Linked DNA regions of Homo sapiens: regions 2 and 3 are each linked to region 1. A link means that fine-mapping ties the variant in region 1 to the expression of a gene that starts in the linked region. Tissue or cell type: tibial artery. Region 1 holds a variant in brackets; each other region holds the start of a gene. All regions are shown on one strand. Distances are between the middles of the regions.

What was found. PIP is the estimated chance that this variant, and not a neighbour inherited with it, causes the effect.
Region 2: it holds the start of BTBD16, and the variant in region 1 is fine-mapped to the expression of BTBD16 in tibial artery (GTEx, PIP 0.98).
Region 3: TACC2 starts here. The variant in region 1 is fine-mapped to the expression of TACC2 in tibial artery (GTEx, PIP above 0.99). The same link has a PIP of 0.9 or more in aorta, breast, coronary artery, subcutaneous fat, tibial nerve and visceral fat.

The regions. Positions count from the first base shown.
Region 1 is chr10:122,095,440-122,103,348 of GRCh38, reverse strand. All of the region lies in intron 5 of TACC2 (transforming acidic coiled-coil containing protein 2), which reads right to left. Among named protein-coding and RNA genes, the nearest start is that of TACC2, 110 kb to the right of the region's middle. The variant A/G (reference allele first, on the strand shown) is at 4,140.
Region 2 is chr10:122,267,608-122,275,516 of GRCh38, reverse strand. It overlaps BTBD16 (BTB domain containing 16), which reads right to left and starts at 4,221. Exons shown (of 16, transcript NM_144587.5): 1 at 4,003-4,221; 2 at 418-477. The coding sequence starts at 435. RefSeq lists an enhancer at 6,826-7,327.
Region 3 is chr10:121,985,839-121,993,747 of GRCh38, reverse strand. TACC2 (transforming acidic coiled-coil containing protein 2) reads right to left here and starts at 4,585. Exons shown (of 23, transcript NM_206862.4): 1 at 4,260-4,585.

The DNA of each region.
Region 1 (7,909 bases):
TGGTGAACTCACCCGGAGGCCACACTGAGCAGTGCCACGGTTCATACATAGGCTCTGTGTGTGCAGAACTCAAACTCCTAACCAGTCTACAGTGACCACAGCTAAACTGTGGGTTATTTCTTATATACTCTAGACATGTCAGGAGGGGAATATGACATGAGGAACCCAGCCATATCATAGGAATTCAGCCCTCACACTCATAAGATCCATTTCACTGGTGAACTCTGAGGAACTTTCCTTCTTTCTTTCTTTTTTTTTCTTTTTCCTAGAAGGAATAGTGCTTTAGTCTTCTGAGCTAAGTCCTCACATTCCATGATGGGCTGTACAAGCAGCAAGATACATTCCTGAACTGCAACCCAGCAAAACTTGGTTACAGGGCGAGGAGGCATATTTGTAGAAGGGATTCAAGCCTCCTAAAAATTCAGCCATTACCTCCACCCATGCTAAGAGGAAATGTCAGCCTGAACCCAAAATATACACAAGGAAATGTGTGGGGGCAGCTCTGCACACGGCTCTCAGCCTCAGCCAGAATTTCTAGATGTGGCCTCGGCATTTTCCCTGAGGGCACACAGAGCCCAGTTCACACAAGCCAGGTCTGCACTGCTCGGACAGACGTGTGTTCCATGAGCCAAAGTGCTGACGGCTGGTCTCACAAGCCAAATGTACCTGGCCAGGCTCTCCCAGGGGCCAGTGTGCTCCTGCACTTGAACTTGGCCTAGTCCCAATTTAAAATAAGCCTTCGACTAAATAGGAAGCAATGCCCTGCCTGCTGTACCTTCTCTGGCAGAAAAACAACTTTCTCTAGGAGACAGTCAGATGTCCAAGTGACATCAGGGCAAAGGTGAAAAATAAACTATTTGATGGATCAGCCGCAGTAGTGTGAGGGTTTGGCAGGGCCAGGAGTGAGGCGCGGTTACGGGGTTCAGTTCAGCCTATGCAGTGGGCTTGATGATGTAGATGTCTTATGCTGCAACAAAGAAGCATCTGAGAGCCGAGTTGGTTTGATCTGCTTCTGCAGGCCTTAGGCCAGCTGTTCCGTGTTGTGTAGAAATACCTGGCGAACTTTGAAAATGTACTACCCCCAGGCTACACCCGCATATCCATTAAACCGGAAGCTCTGGGGGTGGCATCTAGGCATCAATATTTTTTTTAAGCTCTGTGGGAGTTTTCAGTGTGCAGCCAATGTTGAGAAGAGTGCCCCAGACCCCTTGCTACTTAAAGGGTGGCCCATAAACTGCCCAAACCGACGGGTGAAGCGTCACACAGTACCTTGTAGTAGGCAATACCGTCTAGGTCTGCGTAAGCACACTTTATGATGTTTGCACAATGATGAAATCGCCCAACAATGCATTTCACAGAGCAGCTCCCCATCATTAAGCAATGCATGACTGTAAAGATTCCAACTCAGCAGGCCTCGGGTAAGCACCTGAGACTCTGCCTTTTTCTTTTTTCTTTTTTTTAAAAAAAGGATGGGGTTGGCTGGGTGTGGTAGCTCACGCCTGTAATCCCAGCACTTCGGGAGGCCAAGGCAGGCAGATCACAAGGTCAGGAGATCGAGACCATCCTGGCTAACACGGTGAAACTCCATCTCTACTAAAAATACAAAAAAAAAAAAAAAAAAAAAAGCTGGGCATGGTGGCAGGCACCTGTAGTCCCAGCTACTTGGGAGCCTGAGGCAGGAGAATGGCATGAACCCAGGAGGCGGAGCTTGCAGTGAGCCGAGATCACACCACTGCACTCCAGCCTGGGCGACAGAGCAAGATTCTGTCTCAAAAAAAAAAAAAAAAAAAAAAAAAAGATGGGGTTTTGCCATGTTGCCCAGGCTGGTCTCGAACTCCTGAACTCAAGTGATCCTCCAGCCTTGGCCTCCCAAAGTGCTGGATTATAGGTGTGAGCCACCCTGCCCAGCTAAACACAATCATTCTACAAACATTTGTTGAGGGGCTACTATGTGCAGCCCACTGTGCTAAGGACTGGGGACCAGGCACAGTCCCTGCCATTGCAGGGGACTCCTTCCAATAGTGATAGATGTTCCTTGGGTGATACATGTGCCAGCTCTGGTCAAGCATTTCCAGTGCACTATTTCACTGAATCCTCATGAGGTAAGTATTAATTTTATACTCATTTTGCAGGTGAGGAAACTGAGACCTCATGAGACTAATATGACAAATGTCCTACAATGAATAAGCAGCAGATTTGAACCCAGATCTGTCCAGCTCAAAACACCCAATCTCTTCTGCAAATGAGAAAATCTGATTCACCAAACTGTAATACACTTGCCCCTGTCTTAAAATTATTGTCAGGCTACAGAAAGGAACCTCGCTACTCTGGTGGGAGGTAGGGGTACTCCTGGGGAGTGGAAGGGTCGGGAAGGCTTCACAGAACAACGTTTGTCTGAGCCTCTTGAACCAGAATGTGGTCCCATCACAGGCTACAAGTAGAGGGAGGGGCAAGGCAGGCAGAGGGGTCACCCAGAGACATGGGCACATGGGTCTGGCCAACATCTCTCAGCCACACTGGAGTTCCTGCCTCTTATGTCTTTACAGTCTGGGCCTGCTTCTGCACTTACACCTTTCTCCACATTTTTATACCAAAGGAAAAGGGGTTAAGAAGAGAAGACAACAGTCGGGCGCTATAGCTCATGCCTGTAATCCCAGCACTTTGGGAGGCTGAGGCGGGCAGATCACTTGAGGTCAGGAGTTCGAAACCAGCCTGGCCCACATGGTGAAACCCCGTCTGTACTAACAATACAAAACAGTTAGTCAGGTGTGGTGGTGCGTGCCTGTAATCCCAGACACTTGGGAGGATGAGGCAGGAGAGCTGCTTGAACCCAGGAGGTGGAGGTTGCAGTGAGCTAAGATCGGGCCACTGCACTCCAGCCTGGCCAACACAGCAAGACTCCATCTCAAAAAAAAAAAAAAAGGAAGAGAAGACACAAAATGGCCTTTGTTAGACCTTAGAGCCAGTGGCTTTTCAGGACCTTTCCTTCTCAGAAAGGAGCAGGGAAGAGTTACAGCTTTCCTCTTAGACTCAGTCACAGTCCCCAAATGCAGAATGCAAAGAGAGTTTCTTTTTTTTTTTTTTTGAGACAGAGTCTCGCTCTGTTGCCCAGGCTGGAGTGCAATGGCACGATCTCGGCTCACTGCAAGCTCCGCCTCCCAAGTTCAAACGATTCTCCTGTCTCAGCCTCCCGAGCAGCAGGGACTACAGGCGCACGCCACCACGCTTGGCTAATTTTGTATTTTTAGTAGAGACGGAGTTTCGCCTTGTTGGCCAGGCTGGTCTCAAACTCCTGACCTCAGGTGATCCTCCTGCCTTGGCCTCCCAAAGTGCTGGGATTACAGGCGTCAGCCACTGTGCCCAGCCCCAAAGAGTTTCTGAAAGCAAAAGTGTCACCCCAGGAGAGGCAATTTTCTACATTCCATTTTTACAGAATCCTCTCCATTGAAGATAAAATATGAACTAAATGAGAGGTATACACAACACTTCAACAGAAGCCTGGTAGTTCCTAACACATAAGCTTCCCATCTTCTTGAAAAAACAAAACTAAACCCTGCAGTGATCATTAAGTCGTTTTATCTCCCACAAATTTATAGCCCACTTGTAAAGAAACAGAGTTAAGCTGAGTTAAGCTGTAGCCTCTGTGCTTTGTGGCCCTGGCTTTCCTTTGCTTGGCTGACAGCATTTGCAGGAGGGTTGCCGAAAAACCACCAGCAAAAGCCAGTTGGGCCAGTGCTTGCAGCTTCTTTAATTCACCACAATTTGGGAAGTATGTGGATGCTGCTGGGGAGGACAGACTCAGATTAGAGTTCAACAGGAGAACGTTCTGCTGAAACTGGAGTTTTATCTCCTTCCAGCTGAGTGTGTCAGAAGGAGACTATGAATGACTATGAATGCCCAAGCCAGGCATGAGGTGGTACCTCATCTCAAAGGTGAGCTTCGCTGCTACCCAGCCTCAGGTGCCAGAGGAGCATCTGCCCAGCCATCCTTCATAGGTGGCCTGGAAAGGCAGTCTGGTCTGGGGTTGAGACTTAAGCCCAGGCTCGGCACTCACACTCTGCTCCAAATTCTCAGTCTGCCAACTCTGGCCATGTGTATGTTTCAATACCAGCTGCTTCGTCACTTGCCAGGAACAGTCT[A/G]CTCCTCCAGCTATTATGTTATGGCGTCTGGCAGGCAGGGCCAGATGACTTTTCACCCTGCCCTTTCCTCTAGGGGTTTGGAATGGGCTCACAGCTCAAAATATCATGCCAAAATTGTCGAGGCGGTTTGTCCCATGAGATGTGCTCAGCACAGCCAGGCTCACCACACAGGCGTACTCCCACCCACTAATGTTAGCTTGCAGCCTCTCTGCAGCCGCTCCTGGCAAGAGGTTAACCCCAAAGCCCTAGATTCCACAAGGAAGGGAATGCATTCCCCACGGGTGCCAGATGGCTCCACTTCGCATCCTATACAATATTGCAACACGGAGAGCCACCCCCATTGGGAGGCTGAGGCTACAGGACGAGAAGAAGCATTAGAGGGTAGTGGCACATTCCAACAAATCCAGGCCAGATGTACGTGAACTCTATGAGCCCGTGTGTAAAAACACAGGTACCTACCATTAATCTACCTTAAGAATAGTCTTATCATCATTTAAGTGATGATGGTAATATTAATGATAGTAGCAATAAAAACAGTAACCTCTGGTACCTCAGTGCTTACTGCATGCCAGGTGGGCACTTTGCTAAGCTTTTCACACGTTATTTTTTACATAACTCTCTGTGGTGGACCCTAGCATTATACACATCTTTCAGGCAAGAAACTTAGGGTGGCTAAGGAACTTGCTCGAGGGTAAAGAGTCTAATAGCAGAGCCGTGAGTTAGACGCAGCCACCTGCCTCCAAAGTGCTGTCTGACCTCGTTTTTCAGGACAGGAACCCTCAGACTCACCTGATAGCTAGTTGTGTTGAATTATGTAGCAAACACGTATGCAGCGCCTAAGGTGCCTCATGCAAGGTATCAGGTGCTGGGTAACCAAGAGCCATGCCCTGCAAATCTAACATTCTCCAAGAAACAAGATCATAGCTTATTCTCTTAGCCAGAGGCCAAGACCAGCTCTCTATCAAAATGGCCACAAACATATCCATGCAAACATTTCTAGAAAGACAACCTAGGATCATGATGTCCAACTTCCTGATCCTACAGGGTACATAGCGAGCAGACAGGAGCCCGTGAACAGCTGACTCCTCACGTGTGTGCTGGGCCCTGGGCTGGGAGTCAACAAACCACATCTGTCACTCACCTGCCCCACATCAACCTACCTACCTACCCACCTAACCATTTACCCCAAACCTCTTTCTAGCAGAGGAGCGTGTACCCAGCGTGTCCTGAAAGCCCATCTCAGCTCTTCCCCGGTGAGAGAGCCCTCGGCTTCTCCTTCCAAGTGCCTGGCTTGGGTGCACATTTGCTGGGTGGCTGCTGAGCTGGCTGTGGGGATGGAGTTGCCCAGAAGCCCCCCTGCAGCTCAGGGACCTTGTCCACGAAGTCTCCACTGCAAGCTGACTTTGTGTCGGGTGTGCCGTGTCTCATCTCATCTTCTCCCCACTGTAACCCTCCTTTACCCCCAGGAGACATTGTCAGCCCCATTTACCTGCAAAGAAGCTGAGGCTTGGGGCAGTCCTAATAGCACCCAGCATCACCCCTCCAGTGGGAGCCAGGATTTAAACTCCGGCCGCCTACCAACCCTAGCCTCCAGCTTGATCTCATCCTCAGCCTCATTTCTCCTCCCTCCTACTCCCAGGGCCCTCCCCGTCCCCTGGGGCCACTTCAGAGCCCCGCTCTTCTCCCACCGAGTGTACTCCTGGCCTGAAAACTGAGTGCTGACCCAAATCCACTGTGCATTGGGGTCCTTGCTAGGCGCACCCTGCCCTCTCTCGGGACATAGACTCCCTTCCCCTGAGTTTCTTCTTCTTTCTTCTTTTCTCCTCCTTCTCCTCCTCCAACTCTTCTTCTTTTTCTTCTTCCTCCTTTTCTTTGAGACAGTACCTCACTCTGTCACCCAGGCTGTACCCAGGAGTACAGTGGTATGACCTTGGCTCACTGCAGCCTCGACCTCCTGGGCTCAAGCGATCCTCCCACCTCAGCCTCCTGAATAGCTGGGACCACAGGCATGTACCACCACACCACGCTAATTTTTCTTTTTCTTTTTGTAGAGATGGAGTCTCACTATGTTGCCCAAGCTGGTCTCTAACTCCTGGGCTCAAGCAATCCTCCCACCTCAGCCTCTCAAAGTGCTGAGATTATAGGCATGAGCCACCGTGCCCAGCAACCAGGCAAGTTTTTATTCCTAAACACCCTCGGCCAGGCTTGCAAAAGGAAAGGGCATTAAGAGCATCAGTAACTAGACCTGTTCCAGTGCCTTCCCTGGAAAAAGAAACACTTTCACAGTCTACATCTGAGTCATCAGGCTGCTAAAATATTTAACACTGGACTAACAGGCATTAAGAAAGCAGAGAAGAAAGAAGGGGCTGAGATGCTGTAAGCTGGGGCCTGTTCCTCATCCTGCCAGGTTTTCGGGACAAGAACAGTGCAGAGACATCAGTGGAAAAACCACATGTCTGCCCATTTGGGCTCCCTCCCAGTCTGGTGAGGGGCAGTCTTTTTTTTTTTTTTTTTGAGACGGAGTTTTGCTCTGTCGCCCAGGCTGGAGTGCAATGGCGCGATCTCAGTTCACTGCAACCTCTGCCTCCTGGGTTCAGGTGATTCTCCCACCTCAGCCTCCTGTGTAGCTGGGATTATAGGCATGCACCACCCTGCCCAGCGAATTTTGTATTTTTAGTAGAGACAGGGTTTTACCATGTTGGTCAGGCTGGTCTTGAGCTCCTGACCTCAGATGATCCACCAGCCTCGGCCTCCCAAAGTGCTGGGATTATAGGCGTGAGCCACCGCGCCTGGCCGGTAAGGGGCACTCTTGTAGGTGTGGCCACCGGGGGGTTTGTGGGCAGGGAGGGTTTGCCACAAGCGCTGCTGTCAGGAGCCAGTTCATGGGGCCATCCAGGGCTTCTTACAATGCCAGCTCAGATACGGGTGCGCAGGCCTGGATGTGAGGTCACATAGGTGAAGCCAAGCCCCCAGGTGCAATGGGAGGCCTCCTTGGGTGCAGGAAAGACACCTCCTGCTGATCCGCATTACTGGGCAGATGTGCCACGAACACACCTCAGCCTCCATTCTAGAGACACAACCACTTGGTCTCCCCACTTACAGAGCCAGCCAGCGGGAGGAAGGGGCGCCTAATACTCACCGAGCACCAGCAGGTGCTTGAGAAATGTCCAGGGCCTCACACACAGAGCCTCACCACACCCACTGGCTCTGATGGCAAGGATTAGCCTCTGACGTAATGCAAAGACACAGTGGCTTCCAGTTGGGTTGTCCTGTGTGGAAGCCACAGCCCCATGTGGGTATTTCACTATAAATTTCAATTAGTTGAAATTAAACAAAATTAACAATTTGGTTCCTTAGTGGCACCAGCCTCATTTCAAGTGCTCGCTAGCAGCCTGTGGCCAGCAGCGACTGTATTGGAGAGTGGAGACACAGGACATTCCCACCACTGAAGAACCGTCGGTGGACAGCGTTGCTGTAGGGAACAGGGCGCCTCCCCAGGACTCCACCTGGCTAGTAAGAGAATGATCAGCGTTCTGAACGTAGATCTGATGTCTGAAAAGCCTTGAGGTTCTAGTTCTAGTTCCAACTCTTATTAGCTTTTTGACCTTGACCAAGCCATGTCACCATTGGGAGCCTCCATTTCCTCATCTGGAAAAGGGGTACACAAACAGCACCCACCTACAGGTTGAGGTGAGAAAGAACCACGATGCTGCAGTGTGGAAGTACATTGGCCCAGAGTGGGGAATAAATGAAAGGAACTTATACAGAGC
Region 2 (7,909 bases), 170 kb before region 1:
GTGGTGACGGTAATGGTTATCGTGACAACGACAGTGAGGATGGCGATGGTGGGGATTGTGGGGATATCATCTTGTTTCCAATGCTGTAAAAAGTATAAAGTAGGATAAAGTTTGGGAAATATGCCTTAGTATAGTGCCTAGAAGATGGTGGGTGATTAAAAACTGTGGAATCTGAGTCTAGATGTAGTCCGGCTGTCACGTAAAACGTCAAAGTAAAACATCGTCAGCTCAGACCACAAGCCTGCTCTCTGCCCTCTGGACGGTGCTGCCTGGACGCGCTCTTTCCAGCCGAGTCAGCCAATAATGCTTGAGGTCCTCGGTGGTGCAGAACCCAGCCCCTTGTGGAAATTTGTCAAAATGACCATAAGCAAATGCTTCTTCTCATCACCTACCTTCTTGAGAAACTGATCTACTCACCGTGTTCGACATTATCATGAATGAAAGTGGAAATTACGCAGGAGAGAAAAGACAAGCAACCTAGAAGACAAAAGAGGTAAAGGTGACATTTTCCATACTTTTCAAAATATTATGGAGGAGATTGGCCTAAAGAATCTATACTTTGCCACAGGAACAATAATGAATAAGCCTCGAATGTGGGTTATTTATCAATCAAGAGAATATCTTGTTGTTGCTGGGGTTTTTTGTTTGGTTTTGTTTTTTGTTTTTTTTGTAAGCAGGTGAATAGAGAGATCTCTGCTATTGTTCTGGGAAAGTGGCTCAGATAAAGCAAAACAGAAGATAATCCTTTGCCAAAGTGAGGAAGACCAAAAGATAGCTATAAGTAGGCTGATCACATAATTGATCATTCAGACGAGGAGACTAAAGGGATGATATTAATAATTAGGCCTGGACAATGGCTGTAGGCCAGGGCTGCCCTGGAGCTCTGTAGACTGATGGTCACCCTAGCTTACAGGGTCATGAAAGAGGAAGAGTGCAAGGACTTTCCAGTTATCTCTGAACATTATCAGGGCTGTTGGGTTACAAGCAACAGAAACCCATTTGATTATGGGGTTGCGGGGAGGTTAAGATTGATTGGAAGGATGGTGATGAGAGGAGGGTCTCATAGACTCAAAAGGAAACTGGAGAACTCTCCGGGAAAGAACAGGAAGCAGCTGCAGGGACCTGGGTGGCACGCACCAGGAGTTGGTGGCTGTTGTTGTCAGGCGCTGCCTCCAGCATGAGTCGGCTCTCCCACAGTCCATCTATGCAGGGTTCTTTTCAATCCAGATTCTCAGCAAGAGGCCCCAACTGGCCTGGCTTAGCTCAGGGGCCCACTCTTTGGCCCCTGAGGGCAGACACCTTGACTAATTCTCCCAACAAGAACGTGCACTGGGGACTGGGTAGTTCCCCAGAGCAACATCAGAGAAGAGGAGAAGTGGGTGAGCTGGTGAAACCAGCAGAAGCCACGGCACTTGATGACCAAGAACCTCAGCTGACCTCCCTTTGCTCCCCAAACAGCACTTCACCTGCATCACAGCCATGGCTATGTTCATCCATTCACCAACAAGCATCTCCTGTGCAGTCGCCATATGGAGAGAGGCGTTAGCCGTTTCTGAGAGACAGCAGTGAGCAAAATGCACACGATCCTTGCCTCATAGAATTTCCATTCCACTTGGGCAGACAGGTTTTTCTTTGCCTTTTAATTGCCTTAATTGGACTTTTTAATTGCAAAAGTATTAATAATATATGCTTGTTGTAACTAGTGAACCAATACAATGACAGGAAAGAAAAATTTAACATAGCTGCATAATATCACTTTTTCTTTTTTTGAGACAGGGTCTTGCTCTGTTGCCCAGGCTGGAGTGCAGTGGTGTGATAAAGGCTCACTGCAGCCTCAATCTTCTGGGCTCAAGTGATCCTCCCACTTCAGCCTCCCCAGTAGCTGGGACTACAGGTGTCCGCTACCACACCTGGCTAATTTTTTAATTTTTCTAGAGCCAGGGTTGCCCAGACTGATCTATATTGCCCAGACTGGTCTTGAACTCCTGATATCAAGCAATCCTCCTGCCTTGGCCTCCCAAAGTGCCAGGATTATGGGCATGAGACACTGTTTCTGGCCGCATAATATTTCATACAGTGAATGCATCATTATTTATTAAAATATTCCTCTGCCAAGTCATTGAGGTTATTTCCTATATTTTATTCCCATAATAAAAACAATGGGAACAATATGCATACACATTATTATGGCAGTTTGTGTACATGTGTGTATACATATATCTATACATGTTACCTATATCTGCATCTGTATATATATGTATGTATGTGTGTATATATATATATATATATATATATCTTTGTGTTGCTGTTTTTATTTCTATGAAATAGTCTTCCAAGTGGTATAGTTATGTCAGAGATCTGTATCTTCAATTGAAATAGTTAATACCAATTCACTTGCCCCAAAATTGCAGCAATTAACATTCCTATCACCAATTTATAAGTGTTGTCATTTTTTTCACAACATCTTTAGTACTAGGTAGTATCATCGTATTTATTTTTGCCAAGCTGGTGAGTGTCAGATGGTTTCAGATTCTTACTTTAATTTGAACTTTCCTGGCTACCAGTGGGGTTGAGCATTCTTTTATCTATTTATTGGCTGTTTAATTTTTCTTTTCTGAAAACTGCCTAATCATAGGTTTTCCGCAATTTTCTACTGGGTTACTGTAGTCTCACTAGCATTTTTTAAGGAGCCCTCTATGTACTGGGGACACTAACATTTTGTCTGCCATACATGCTGCAGAAGTGTATCATTTGTCTTTTGACTTTGTTTATGGTAAACAAATTGTTTCATTAGTATGAAAATATGTCCTGTGTGTGTGTGTGTGTGTGTGTGTGTGTATTTCCTTTGCCAGTCTCTAATTTGAAAACATATCTGGGGCCAGGCCCAGTGGCTCATGCCTGTAATCCCAGCACTTTGGGAGGCCAAGGCAGGTGGATCACCTGAGGTCAGGAGTTCAAGACCAGCCTAACCAATATGATGAAACCTTGTCTCTACTAAAAATACAAAATTAGCTGGGTGTGGTGGCGCATGCCTGTAATCCCAGCTACTTGGGAGGCTGAGGCAGGACAGTCACTTGAACTCTGGAGGTGGAGGTTGCAGTGAGCCAAACTCTCACCATTGCACTCCAGCCTGGGAAACAAGAGCGAAACTCTGTCTCGAGGGGAAAGAAAAAAGAAAAAGAAACGTGTCTGGGTACAAACATGGCCCTGGTGTTTGTACCCAGCTGCTGGTGTCTTCATCTGCAATTGCATCCATGTATGCATGTGTGTTAAGAGCATCTTTGGCTGTTCAACCAGCTTTCAGAGGTGCACTTGAGTTTACAGCAATGTGTGTTTTCCTTGATGGCTGAGTTTCCACCTTGCGTGAGGCTTCTCCCACCTCAGGTAACACATACATGCTTTTCTGATCCCTTTACCTCACAGGAGCCAGGATGATGAACTCCTCAGCTTAAAGCCCTTCACCAGCTTCCCACTGCCCTAGACATAGACCCCCAAATCCTCAACGTGGCCTTAAGGAATCTGAGAAGAGAGAAGAGGGTTCCATTCTAAAGCAGACCTGGTCAGCACAGAATAAACCCCACACGGGACTCGCTATGCCCACAGAGCACCGCTTCAGTTACAGAGAGAGGGAGGCTGGGGTTTGCACTCAGCTACCCAAAGCTCCTGCTTTCTTAGATCAATATCTAAGAACTTTTTTAGCTGATCTTGAAATCCAGAGACATCTCAATGGCCTGGAAATGTGTTCTTTTTTCATCCCACCAGGCAATCTGCCCCTTCGTGTGTTTTGAGAGCCTGTGCCAAGGTCCCTGTGGGCGGGCAGGAGCTACCTACAATGGTCTCTCAGCTCCCAGACCCCTCCTGATTCCCTAAACTCCCTCCCTGCCAAGTAGACCAGAGGCACCCAAGTCTAACACTGGGTCTAGACAGGTGCTAAGACAGCACCTGTCACTAGGACACATTTCTTGGTCTCTGAAGTGGCTGAAAAATACCCATTGTACTTACCGTTCCAAAGCCCTTTTGCCCACCACAGGCGTGTTTACAGGGGAAGTGTGCTGAGTGGAGGAACTCCCATCACACTGGCCTCTGAGTTACAGGAGAGCTGGGGGCGCCTTCTGAGCCTGAAGCCTGGAAGCGCTCATCACATCTGGGGCTCCCCCTTTTCTTCTTATGGGCCAAGGTGCTTTGACAGGGGGAGCTTGCCTTGGTTTCCTGGGTGGTTGTGAGCACCACGGCAACGGCAGGGAAGCTTCCAAGCACTTCCTGTTCCAGGGCCAGGTTTCAACTCAGGCTCGGGCTGTGTCCAAGGCCCTGGCTGATGGGGAGAAGCTGTGAGTGATGGCATCTCAGAGACCAGTGTGGGTGCCATGTGCCTCCATTCCTGTTCCTCACAGCACCTGGGGCAACCCAGGGCACAGCCTCAGTGAGAACCAACCCCCAAATCTTCAGGCTTCATCTGTCAAAGGAGAAGATTAGACTAGAAGCTTCTCAGATGCCTCCCAGCTCTGGCATTCTGGGGTGCTCTATTTCTAGCATTTTCTATCTGTGTTTTGACAAACATATTTCAATAAAAATTGAGCATTCCGCATTATTAAAAGCTATGCCTAATGAAGTACTTTGCTGATGATGATTTTTAATGCTGCTCTCTCTGGGAGCTAAGGACTGCCTAAAAGTCAAGGACAAGACCAAGAGCCTTCAAGCTGGCATCCAGAGTGGAAATGTTTGGGATTTGTTTGTTTTGTTTTGCTTTTTTTTTTTCTCTGAGATGGAGTCTCACTCTATCGCCCAGGCTGGAGTGCAGTGGTGTGATCTTGACTCACTGCAACCTCCGCCTCCTAGGTTCACCGGGTTCAAGCAATTCTTGTGCCTCAGCCTCCTGAATAGCTGGGATCACAGGTGCCCGCCACCACACCGGCCTAATTTTTGTATTTTTAGTAGAGACAGGGTTTCACCATATTAGCCAGGCTGGTCTCGAACTCCTGACCTCAGGTGATCTGCCCACCTCGGCCTCCCAAAGTGCTGAGATTACAGGTGTGAGCCACCGCACCTGGCCCTAAGTGCAATCTTACAGTGTCCTCAGCGACGTGGCCTGTGAAGCCCATGACCCAAACTAGGGGATGGGGAGGTGGAGGCCATGTGGGTCAGAGTCACATGGGTCACCACGGGTCCATCAAAGGCCTGGACCACCACCCCAGGGATCACAGAAATCCCTAGTTACAGTAATAGGAACCAGGAGGCAGTACAGCTTTTAAGACCCAAGGCCAGCCTCTCCTAGGCCACATACATCCTAAAGTAAAACGGGAAAGTAGCTGCGCTGCCTCCTGTGGCTGTGATCTAGAAACTACGAAACACTCTATAAATGGGAGGTACCCCTGAATTTGTCTCCCGCCTCAGCCCTCAAATCCTGTGATTCTACTCCTCCCAACACCATATTCTGCTTTGCACAGAAGCCGATCGCTGTGGAATGTTCTGTGAGTGGCTTACCCATCTCTGCATCCCCAGAGCCCAGCAACCAAACTTGGACTTTAGAAAGTGCTCAATAAACATCTCTGGAATTGGGTAATTGGATGTCCTAGTCCATAACCACCACTCTGCCTGTGTACCTGCTTGAGTGCCACATGCATAAGTGTGCACATGTGATTATGTATGCATAGGTGTGTGTGTCTGCTTCTGTGTTTGAGTACGAACATGGCCCTGGTGTTTGTACCCACCTATGTCCTCATTTGCAATTGCATCCATGTATGCACGTGTGTTAAGAGCATCTTTGGCTGTTCTAGTAGCTTCCAGAGGTGCACTTCAGCTTAGAGCGATGTCTCTTGGTTGTGCCTTGGATTTTGGGTTTGAGAGTGAGACGACAGGGTTTCATGGTAGTATACAACTGATCCCAGCAACTGCCACCGGGTTGGAGAAGCAGCTGATTGTCAGGCTTTTGGTGTTTAGTAGCAGCAGCAGCAGCTGGTGCTGCAGACAGGATTTGAGGTGGGGCCCAAAGGAGTCCACTGGTGCTCACCTCTCAGCCTAGCTCTTCTGGAGATCAGGAGGTAGGGAGGGACGTGCACAATGAGAGAACCAGTGGGAGAAGAATGTAGGCGACAAGGGGCTGAAGACACTGGCATGTCTTAGACAGGGGGGTTAGGAACCCAGTTCAGGGTCTGCCCACCATCCCTAGACGCTCAGGGGCAGCATGAGACCGGAAGCAGGCCTCTAACAACTGTTGCAGGGGCCTCAGGAGCCAGAGGCCGAGGCTGCATTCCTGAGCCAGGTGTGGGCCCTCTCTCATGCTTGAAAAACAAACACTTGTTGTTAATTTATTTTCCTTTTACAAACGCAATGCATTTACAGGCACAAATTCAGAGGCAAAAATTCTTAACAATAAAAATCATTTGGATTCCACAGCCGAATTCAGCACCATTAATAGTACATTGACATTTTGTATGTATACACACATTTTTGAAAATGCGGTCCTACTGTACTCTTTAACATGAGTTGTTCACTAAGTGTTAGACGCTTTCTCCTGCATTTTTGTACATGACTGTTAATGGCGACACTGTGCTTTTTTTTTGAGACGAAGTCTCGCTCTTGTCCCCCAAGCTGGAGTGCAGTGGCGCAATCTCGGCTCAATGCAACCTCCGCCTCCCGGGTTCAAATGATTCTCCTGCCTCAGCCTCCCCAGTAGCTGGGATTACAGGCGCCTGCCACAACACCTGGCTAATTTTTGTATTTTTAGTAGAGACAGTTTCACCATGGATGCTGTGCCTCTTGATGCAGAGGCAGATGGGGATTAGGGTAACCAGCCCCTTCTGCTGGACATGCGGCAGCTGGAGGTGCAGCCCACCCATCAGGCTGAGCTCCCCTCCGGGGCAGTGACAGAGGCTCATCCAGGCACCCACGCATGGCTGTGCACACACAGCTGCTGTGCACCTTCTCTCTTCCCCGACCATCATGTTGCTCTCCACTCCCCCTCGAGTCTGGTCCATGGCTTCCCTCCTAGCCCGGTGCCAAGAACATGGGGGCGGAGAGGGGCTGAGCAGAAGTCTGTGTACAAATGGACAGATTTCCTCTCTCTACGCTGCTCCTTCCCCTCCACCCCAAAGTTTTCCCTGCTAACTGTCCCTGGAATGTGGGACCCCATGTAAGATTTCAATTAACAAGTTTGAAAGACATTATTACCCTGGACCAGCTTGACATCCCACCTGCTCCACCATGGGCCAACCTAGGGATGCCCTCCAGGTATCACTTCTAGAGTGCAGCTGAGAGCGGGCCCCCTCTAGTGGCCACTCTGGGGAAGCGTCCCAGGATGCCACGCTCCCATCAGCCCCTAGGCAGAACCCTGGCCTTGGCTGAATCCATCGCTTTCTGCAGGGTCTAGTTCAAGGATCCGGGGCCTTCAGCTCACCCCCAGAACTCTCAACACATACATCCCCCACAGATCTCCCAGGAGCTGAGCTACTGTCCAAAGTCAAAGGCAGCAAATACAAATAAATGGAAATAGCTTTCAGCATGTTTCCCTGAGAGCCCTTTCCTGATGGTGTCAGTAACTGAGCCCCTTGGGCCCAGCCCATGAAGCAGCCAACAAGCTGGAAATCTGAAGAGCAAAGGTCATCAGTGACTCAGACATCAAATGTCGCTGAGCACTGCCCTTAGCTGGAAATACCTTATGCCAAAATCTCCTGTGTCACAGTTCCAGGGGGATTATGAAGGGATATCCATCTTCTTCTTGCACACTCAGGGATGGGGAGCTCATTACCTTGCCAGAGAGCCCATTTCAGCCCACTCCATCCAGTCACCCATATGGGGAGGTGGTGGAGTACACTGAAAAGAACACCCAATTCTGACCTGGTTCTGACTGGCTATAGCTGTGTGACCCTGGACACATCCTTAACCTCTATTGATGAAAAAAGAAAATCCGGAG
Region 3 (7,909 bases), 110 kb after region 1:
ATACTGAGGTGGGAGTATCGCTTGAGCCAGGGCGGTTGAGGTTGCGGTGAGCTGTGATGGTGCCACTGCACTGTAGCCTGGGTGACAAATTGAGAACCTGTCTCCAAAACAAACAAACAAAAAACAAAAAACAAACAAACAAAAGCCCCGAAAGGAGGATATACATTTATGTGTAAATACTACATTATAAAGGCAATGATCTAAACCTAACCATACAATGTGCTACATTATAATATATAAATAATTCTTTCTGGAAACTCACATAAGAAACTAGTGACAGTGGGTGGACTCGGGAGCAGGGAAAGAGGAAGACTTCCCTCTCATATTTCTTTTCTAGTCTAGGGATTTTATCTCATGTGAATGTATAATTTTTCAGAGAAAATTTAAAAGGTAATCTAATTTTCATCGGAAATATTTAATTTTCAAAATTATTCTAGTATTCAGAGTGCAAATTCAAGTGACTACAACTCCTTTTTTTCACACATTTAAAAGTTAGTTGAGTTGTCTTCCTTAAGAAGACTGAGTTTTATAATAACTAAAATGCTGTAATACCAAAGGACCTCCCAGAGAGTTTTGTTTTGTTTGTTTGTTGTTGAGGCAGGGGTCTTGCAACATTGCCCAGTCTGTTCTTGAACTCTTGGCTCAAGGGATCCTTCCGCCTTGGCCTCCCAAAGTGCTGGGATTACAGGTGTGAGCTACCATGCCTAGCTTCCCAGAGAGTTTTGAATGAGGGTTCTGAAGGCTGGATGCTAAGTCTCGATTCAGCTATTTTTTCTTTCTTTTTTTTTTTTTTTAGAGACAGTCTCACTCTGTTGCCCAGGCTGGAGTGCAGTGGCACGATCTTGGCTCACTGCAACCTCTGCCTCCCAGGTTCTAGCAATTCTCCTGCCTCAGCCTCTGGAGTAGCTGGGACTACAGGTGCCCACTGCCACGCCTGGCTAATTTTTTGTATTTTAGTAGAGACGGGGTTTCGCCGTGTTGCCCAGGCTGGTCTCAAACTCCTGAGCTCAGGCAATCCACCCTCCTTGGCCTCCTAAAATGCTAGGATTACAGGCGTAAGCCACCATGCCCAACCAATTCACCTATTTTCTAGCAGTGACTTGGATCAATTGCCCAAGCACTAAGCACTTCCATTTCATCAGGCAGAAAAAGAGAATGATCCCACACTCCACCTTCTTCATAGGCCCAGCATGACTTAATCATGATGATGTACATAAAAGCCCTCCAAAAATGGAAAATCCCTATTCTAGAACTGAGTTGTTCTGTGCAATTACATTTTATAACTTTTCTTGAAGTTCTTGTGTAATTCTGCACTCAAATAACTTAAGTCAAATTTTCCTGTTGGAAAAAGCATTAAAGTAAAGGGGCCCCTACATAAAACCATGTGGCGTGTTTTCACATTAGCACTTTTTCGGCTCTTAAAACCTTCAGGTTTTTCACTTTCTCAGCATCACCTCTCTTGTGTACAAACTGCTTTCTTCCAAAAGAACAGCCTGGCATATCAGGGTGGGCTGTTCTGGGCCTTCTTCACAGCTTTCTACCACTTCTCACTTTTGTTCCCAGTTTATTGATCTGGGAACAGTTTTTTAGTACTCCCACTAGCACCAACACATAAAACGTGGGTGAAATGGTGATGCAGTTTGGCTGTGTCCCCACCCGGATCTCATCTTAAATTCCCACTTGTTGCAGGAAGGACCTGGTGGGAGGTAATTGAATCATGGGGGCAGGTCTTTCCCATGTTGTTCTCATGATAGTGAATAAGTCTCACGAAATCTGATGATTTTATAAGGGGAGTTTCCCTGCACAAGCTCTTTCTTTGCCTGCTGTCATCCATGTAAGATGTGACTTGCTCCTCCTTGCCTCCTGCCATGATTATGAGGCCTCCCCAGCCACACGGAACTGTGAGTCCATTAAACCTTCTTCCTGTGTAAATTGCCCATCTTGGGCATGTCTTTATCGGCAGCATGAAAATGGACTAATGCAAATGGCTTTGAGATATAAAAAAGTTTTAAATTACACTAAAGTCACAAGTCAGAGTTCCAATGTCTGTAAACAACAGTGCAGTTCCCATGATCCTGATGAAAACCTGCAGACATCTCTGTATACCGGCTGAGATGGTGCCACCATACAGCAACAGTGTGAGTGCAGTTTCTATCATTCACTCAGCTGCTCAGCTTTGAAATGATTCTTGACCAAAACATTCATTCATTAATTAGCAAAAAAGACTTATTTTTAATTTGAGATGTGAACTATTTCAAAACTTGCTCATAAAGTCAGGTTTGATTAATGTTATTTTATTTCATATTAGTTCCTATTTGCCCAGTTGAAATACACGTAAACACAACCTTGCTGAAAATCACTAGCATGTGGCGGACAGCGCAAAGAAAACAAAACATTTCCCAGGCAATGCTTAGAGCTCCTGATTATTTAAAAGCTCTGAGGGGAAAATAAATTTAAAGTAATGTTTGAAATGACAGTAAACAGGTGGATTTATAAAAATAAAAATATACAATGTTTAAGGTTCATTTATCTCCATACATAAAATAAATAAATAAAAGCCCTCTCTTTACTGAAGAAGACAGAACACACAAATGCAACTCCTTTCCTTTAAGAGACTTCATTAAAATGATAACAAAGGCATTTTTAAAAACAAGTAGGTCCAGATGAGGCGTAGTGGCTCATACCTGTAATTCCAGTACTTTGGGAGGCTGAGACAGGTGGATCACTTGAGGTCAGGAGTTTGAAACCAGCCTGGCCAATATGGCAAAATCATCTCTACTAAAAATACAAAAATTAGCTGGGCGTGGTGGCAGGTGCCTGTAATCCCAGCTACTCAGGGGGCTGAGGCAGGAGAATCGAGTGAACCTGGGAGGCAGAGGTTGCAGTGAGCCGAGAAGGCAACACTACACTCCAGCCTGGGTAACACAGCGAGTCCCTGTCTCAAAAACAAACAAACAAACAACAACAACAAAAAAACAGGTATGTCCAGACAATAATGTAATAATGTGGCAAACTGGAGAAGGCACATTAGCTGATGAGAGCTTTCTCCATGGTTGTGGGTAATGGAAAGCAGTGACGGCCTGGTAGTTGAGGAATTAGGGCAGAGGGGCATTAGACTAGAGTAGAAGGGGCTCCAGCCAAACAAGACTCTGCAGACCCTGGAGAGGGTCTGAAACACCAGGAACAATGGTGGGAACGTACTTGGGCAGAAAATTAAAAATAAGTGTCAATGGAATCTACCCTTTGCCCTGCCTGGCCCCGTGCCATAAGACAAAAACAAAATTGAAAACGAAAGCAAAACCTTTCCTATATCCTGATATTTAAAATTCTGGCAGTGTTTGGTGGCTCATACCTATAATCCCAGCACTTTGGGAGGCTGAGGCAGGAGGATCACTTGAGCCTAGGGGTTTGAGACCAGCCTGGCCAACACGGCGAGACCCCCATCTCTATAAAAAATAAAAAATATTAGCTGAATTTAGTGGCATGCACCTGTAGTTCCAACTACTTGAGAGGATTGCTCCTGGTGGGAGGATTGCGTTAGCCCGGGAGGTCGAGGCTGCAATGAACCATCATTATGCCACTGCACTCCAGCCTGGGCAGTAGAGCAAGACCCTGTCTAAAAAAAAAAATCCACAGAAGGTTGAAGGTAAATTTAATAAAATATCTCAAAAAACAGAATTAAAGAAATATTTAAAATATGAAAAAATATTAAAGGTCTGGAGAATCAAACTGTGAGGTCCCTATCTAAGTGACGGGAGATGCAGACATGACACAGAAAAGTAGAAGGAAGAAAGTGTCGAGGTGGTAACATAAAAATATTTCCCATGCTGCACATGCTGGCATGTGCTTGTGGTACCAGCTGCTTGGGAAGCTGAGGCAGGAGAATCACTTGAGCCCAGTAGTTCTGGGCTACAGTGAGCCATGATCATGCCACCGCACTCTGGCTTGGATGACAGAGTAAGAACCTATCTCTAAAAACATAAAAAAAAAAAATAAAATTAATTTAAAAAATAAAAATAAATCATAATTTTTTCCAAAGTTGAAAGACGCAAAAGGGCTCTCACTAGGTGCCTAGCACAGTAGATGAAAATACCTCATACAGTTCTGTGAGTTGGCTGGGCTCAGCCAGGCAGTTCTCACCTTGAGTGATGGTGCTCCCCAGCCACTGAACCTAAGAAGATAGGGTTTTCCTACCCTGTATTTTCAAGTAATGGGAATCAGAGCCAACTTCATTTTCCAGCCCTCTCCTCCTTACTTACCGCACTCCAGCTGTTACCAGTAGGGAATCTGATGTGTCTGCAGCAGCAACTCTATTCTTCCCTCCTCAGAGGAAAAAATTCGCCCAAGGGGCATAAGGTAGAGTAAGAAACCAAGATAACTTTTAGAGCAGGAGTGAAAGTTTTTAAAAAAGTTTTAGAGAGGAATGAAAGGAAGTAAAGTATACTTGGAAGAGGACCAAGCGGGTGACTTGAGAAATCCCAGTGCACTGTACAACCCTTAATGTGGGGTTTTATATGTTGGCACGGTTCTGGGATTTGCGTTTCTTCTCTCCTGATCCTTCCCTTGGAGCAGGCTGTCCACTTATGCAGTGGTCTGCCAGCACTTGGGAGTGGCCGCACTCACAGTGTGTTTACTGAAGTTGTGCGCGTGCTCATTTGAGGCATTTTTCCCTTGCCAGTCGAGAATTCCTAGAGGAAGGTCATATATTAGTTAAACTCTGACATTTTGCCCCTTAGGGCCCATGCTTGAGCCCACTTGCCCAACTCCTGAGATCTTATCAGGAAGCGGCTGACACTAGCTTCAGGTGTTTTCTATCTATTGGGAGCCGGCCTTTCCCTGGTGCTGGCTGCAACCAATGATGATTTTAGAGAAACAGTGTAACAACCACCTGACCATCACATGATGGTCGCCTGACATTCCTGGTTGGGGGTGGGGGTGGAATGCCCTCTGCTGCCCTTCTCATGTTCCCCTAGCTACCTACTCTAACACAGGTATGTATGCCTTTCTGAACTTTCTTGAATGTGTCAGACTTATTTTAACCCCAAAGACTTTTTTTTGCTATTGCCTTTGACTACAATATGACTTCCCTGTATTTTTGCATGACACATTACTCCTCACAATTCAAGTCACATCTCAAATGTCACCTCCTCAGGAAAGATGTTGTGCTGCTCATCACACCTAAAATAGCAACTTTCAGGTCGGGCACAGTGACTCATGCCTGTGATCCCAGCACTTTGGGAGGCCGAGGTGGGTGGATTACTTGAGGTTAGGAGTTCAAGACCAGCCTGGCGAACATGGTAAAACCCCCTCTCTACTAAAAAGACAAAAATTAGCCGGGCGTGGTGGCAGGTGCCTGCTATCCCAGCTATTTAGGAGGCTAAGGCAGGAGAACTGCCTGAACCCAGAGGTGGAGGTTGCAGTGAGCCAAGATCGCACCACTGCACTCCAGCCTGGGTGACAGAGTGAGACTCTATCTGGAGGGAAAGAAAAAATGCAACTTCTATTCTCCACCTATCCCTTTAGCCTATTTAAATTCTTCATAGCACTTACAATGACCAAATCCTTTTTTTTTCTTTTCTTTATTATCTGTCTCCTCCATGAGAGTAGGGACTTTGTCTTATTCATCATTATACAGATGGTTCTGGAGCCACCCAACAAGTTCTTCTTCCCCACTGCACAGACAAAAATCAATTCACTGAGACCATGGCATTGCAATAGAGAAAGAGTTTAACTGCCGCGAGGCTGAGCCCACGTGGGAGAACTGGAGTTATCCCTCAGATCAGTCTCCCTGTAGGCTCGGAACAAGGGTTTTTATGGACAATTTGGTTGTCAGGGGGTAGGGGGATAGTGCCGCTGATTGGTTGGGGATGAAATCATACCGGTGTGGAAAGCAGTCCTCATGCACTGAGTCTGCCTCTGGGTGGGGCCCCAGGACCTGTTGAGTCATGAGTCATGAGTCTGAGTGAGGTCAGTCTGAAAAACATCTTAAAAAACTCAATCTTGGCTGGGCGCGGTGGCTCACGCCTGTAATCCCAGCACTTTGGGAGGCCCAGGTGGGTGGATCACAAGATCAGGAGTTCGAGACCAGCCTGGCCAAGATGGTGAAACCCCGTCTCTACTAAAAATACAAAAACAAACAAACAAACAAACACCCCAATCTTAAGTTCTACAATAGTGATGTTACTTACAGGAGCAATTGGGAAAGTCACAGATCTTGTGAACTCTGGCCACATGACCCCTGGGCATTAAGGGACTATAGAAACTATGCCTACATTTTAGCAGAGTTCTGCCTTCTCCCATTATCCTATTCCTGTGGCCTTTCATTAGTCTTACAAAGGCGATTTTGGTCCCTGAGAAAGGAGGGGGTTAGTTTTAGGGAGGGACTATTATAATCTTTACTTTCAAATTAAACTATAAATTGAATTCCTCCCAAAGTTAGCTTGGCCTATGCCCAGGAATAACCAAGGACAGCTTGGAGGTCAGAAGCAAGATGAAGTCAACCATGTCACATTTCTGTTACTGTCAGTTCTGCAAAGGCAGTTTCCTTCCCTAACATAACAATAATTTGATGTAGATTTATCATAAGATGGCTCAAAAGAGAGAATGCATTCAGCAGAAACTGTACTTTGAGTATTCAAACAACTATTCTGTTTTTCAAATTCAGTACAGTATTCAATAAATTCTATGAGATTCAACACTTTGTCACAAACTAGGCTTTGTGTTAGGTGATTTTGCCCAACTGTAGGCTAATGCAAGTGTTCTCAGCACGTTTTAGGTAGGCTAGGCTATGCTACTTTAACAGCTACATTGTCTAGAGTATTTATGCTGGGGTTCCTTGTCTCACAATGAGAAAGAATTCAGGACACAGACACACGTGGGTGGGTTAAGAAGTAGAAAACTTAATAGAAGAAAGGAGAGAGAGAGAAGTCCAAAACGGGAGGCGGCGGACCGCAGCAGATTTTATAGGCAGGCTGGAAAAGGTGGTGTCTGATTTACGCAGACCTCATAGATTGGTACCATCAGGTATGACATTTACATAGCCCGCGAGGAAGACTGGCTGCCCCACCCTAATCTTATTATGTAAATGGACTCTCCAGTTGATCAGCACTATCTTGACTGCTCTTTAATACATTGTATGGTGGTCGACAAAGAGAAAGGAAGACAGAGCCACCATCTTGAACACATATAGTCCCTAGCTCCTGCCGGCATTCACCTGTGCAAGCTCCCAGCTTGCTTGTTTATATCTGCAGCTCAACTTTATAGGCTGCTCTTTGTTAAAAAACAATTTGGGGCTGCTTTTCATTAAGGATAAAAGCCTTACCAAGGACTTCCGTACCCTCACTATCTGCCCAAGTAATTTCTTCTTAACTCCCATATCCCTATGTTCAGTAGGTTAGGTGTGTTAAATGCATTTTCAACTTACAATACTTTTAACTTATGAAGAATTTACAGGGAGCACCTGTATCATTAGTGCCTAGAACATACTTGGAATGTTTGTTGAGTGAATGCTGGATCAGAATCTTGGCTGGGCATGATGGTTCATGCCTGGAATCCCAGCACTTTGGGAGGCCGCGGCGGGCAGATCACCTGAGGTCAGGAGTTTGAGACCAGCCTGGCCAACATGATGAAACCCCATCTCTACTAAAAATACAAAACTTAGCCAGGCATGGCGACCCGTACCTGTAATCCCAGCTACTCGGGAAGCTGAGGCAGGAGAATTGCTTGAACCTGGGAGGCGGAAGTTGCAGTGAGCCGAGATCACACTATTGCACTAGAGCCTGGGTGACAAAAGTGAGACTCCATCTCAAAAAAAAAAAAAAGAAAGAATCCATTTCAGGCAGACAATGGAACAATGCTTTTAAATTCCTGATGAAAAATTAGTTTCAGCTCAAAATTCTATATCCAGTCA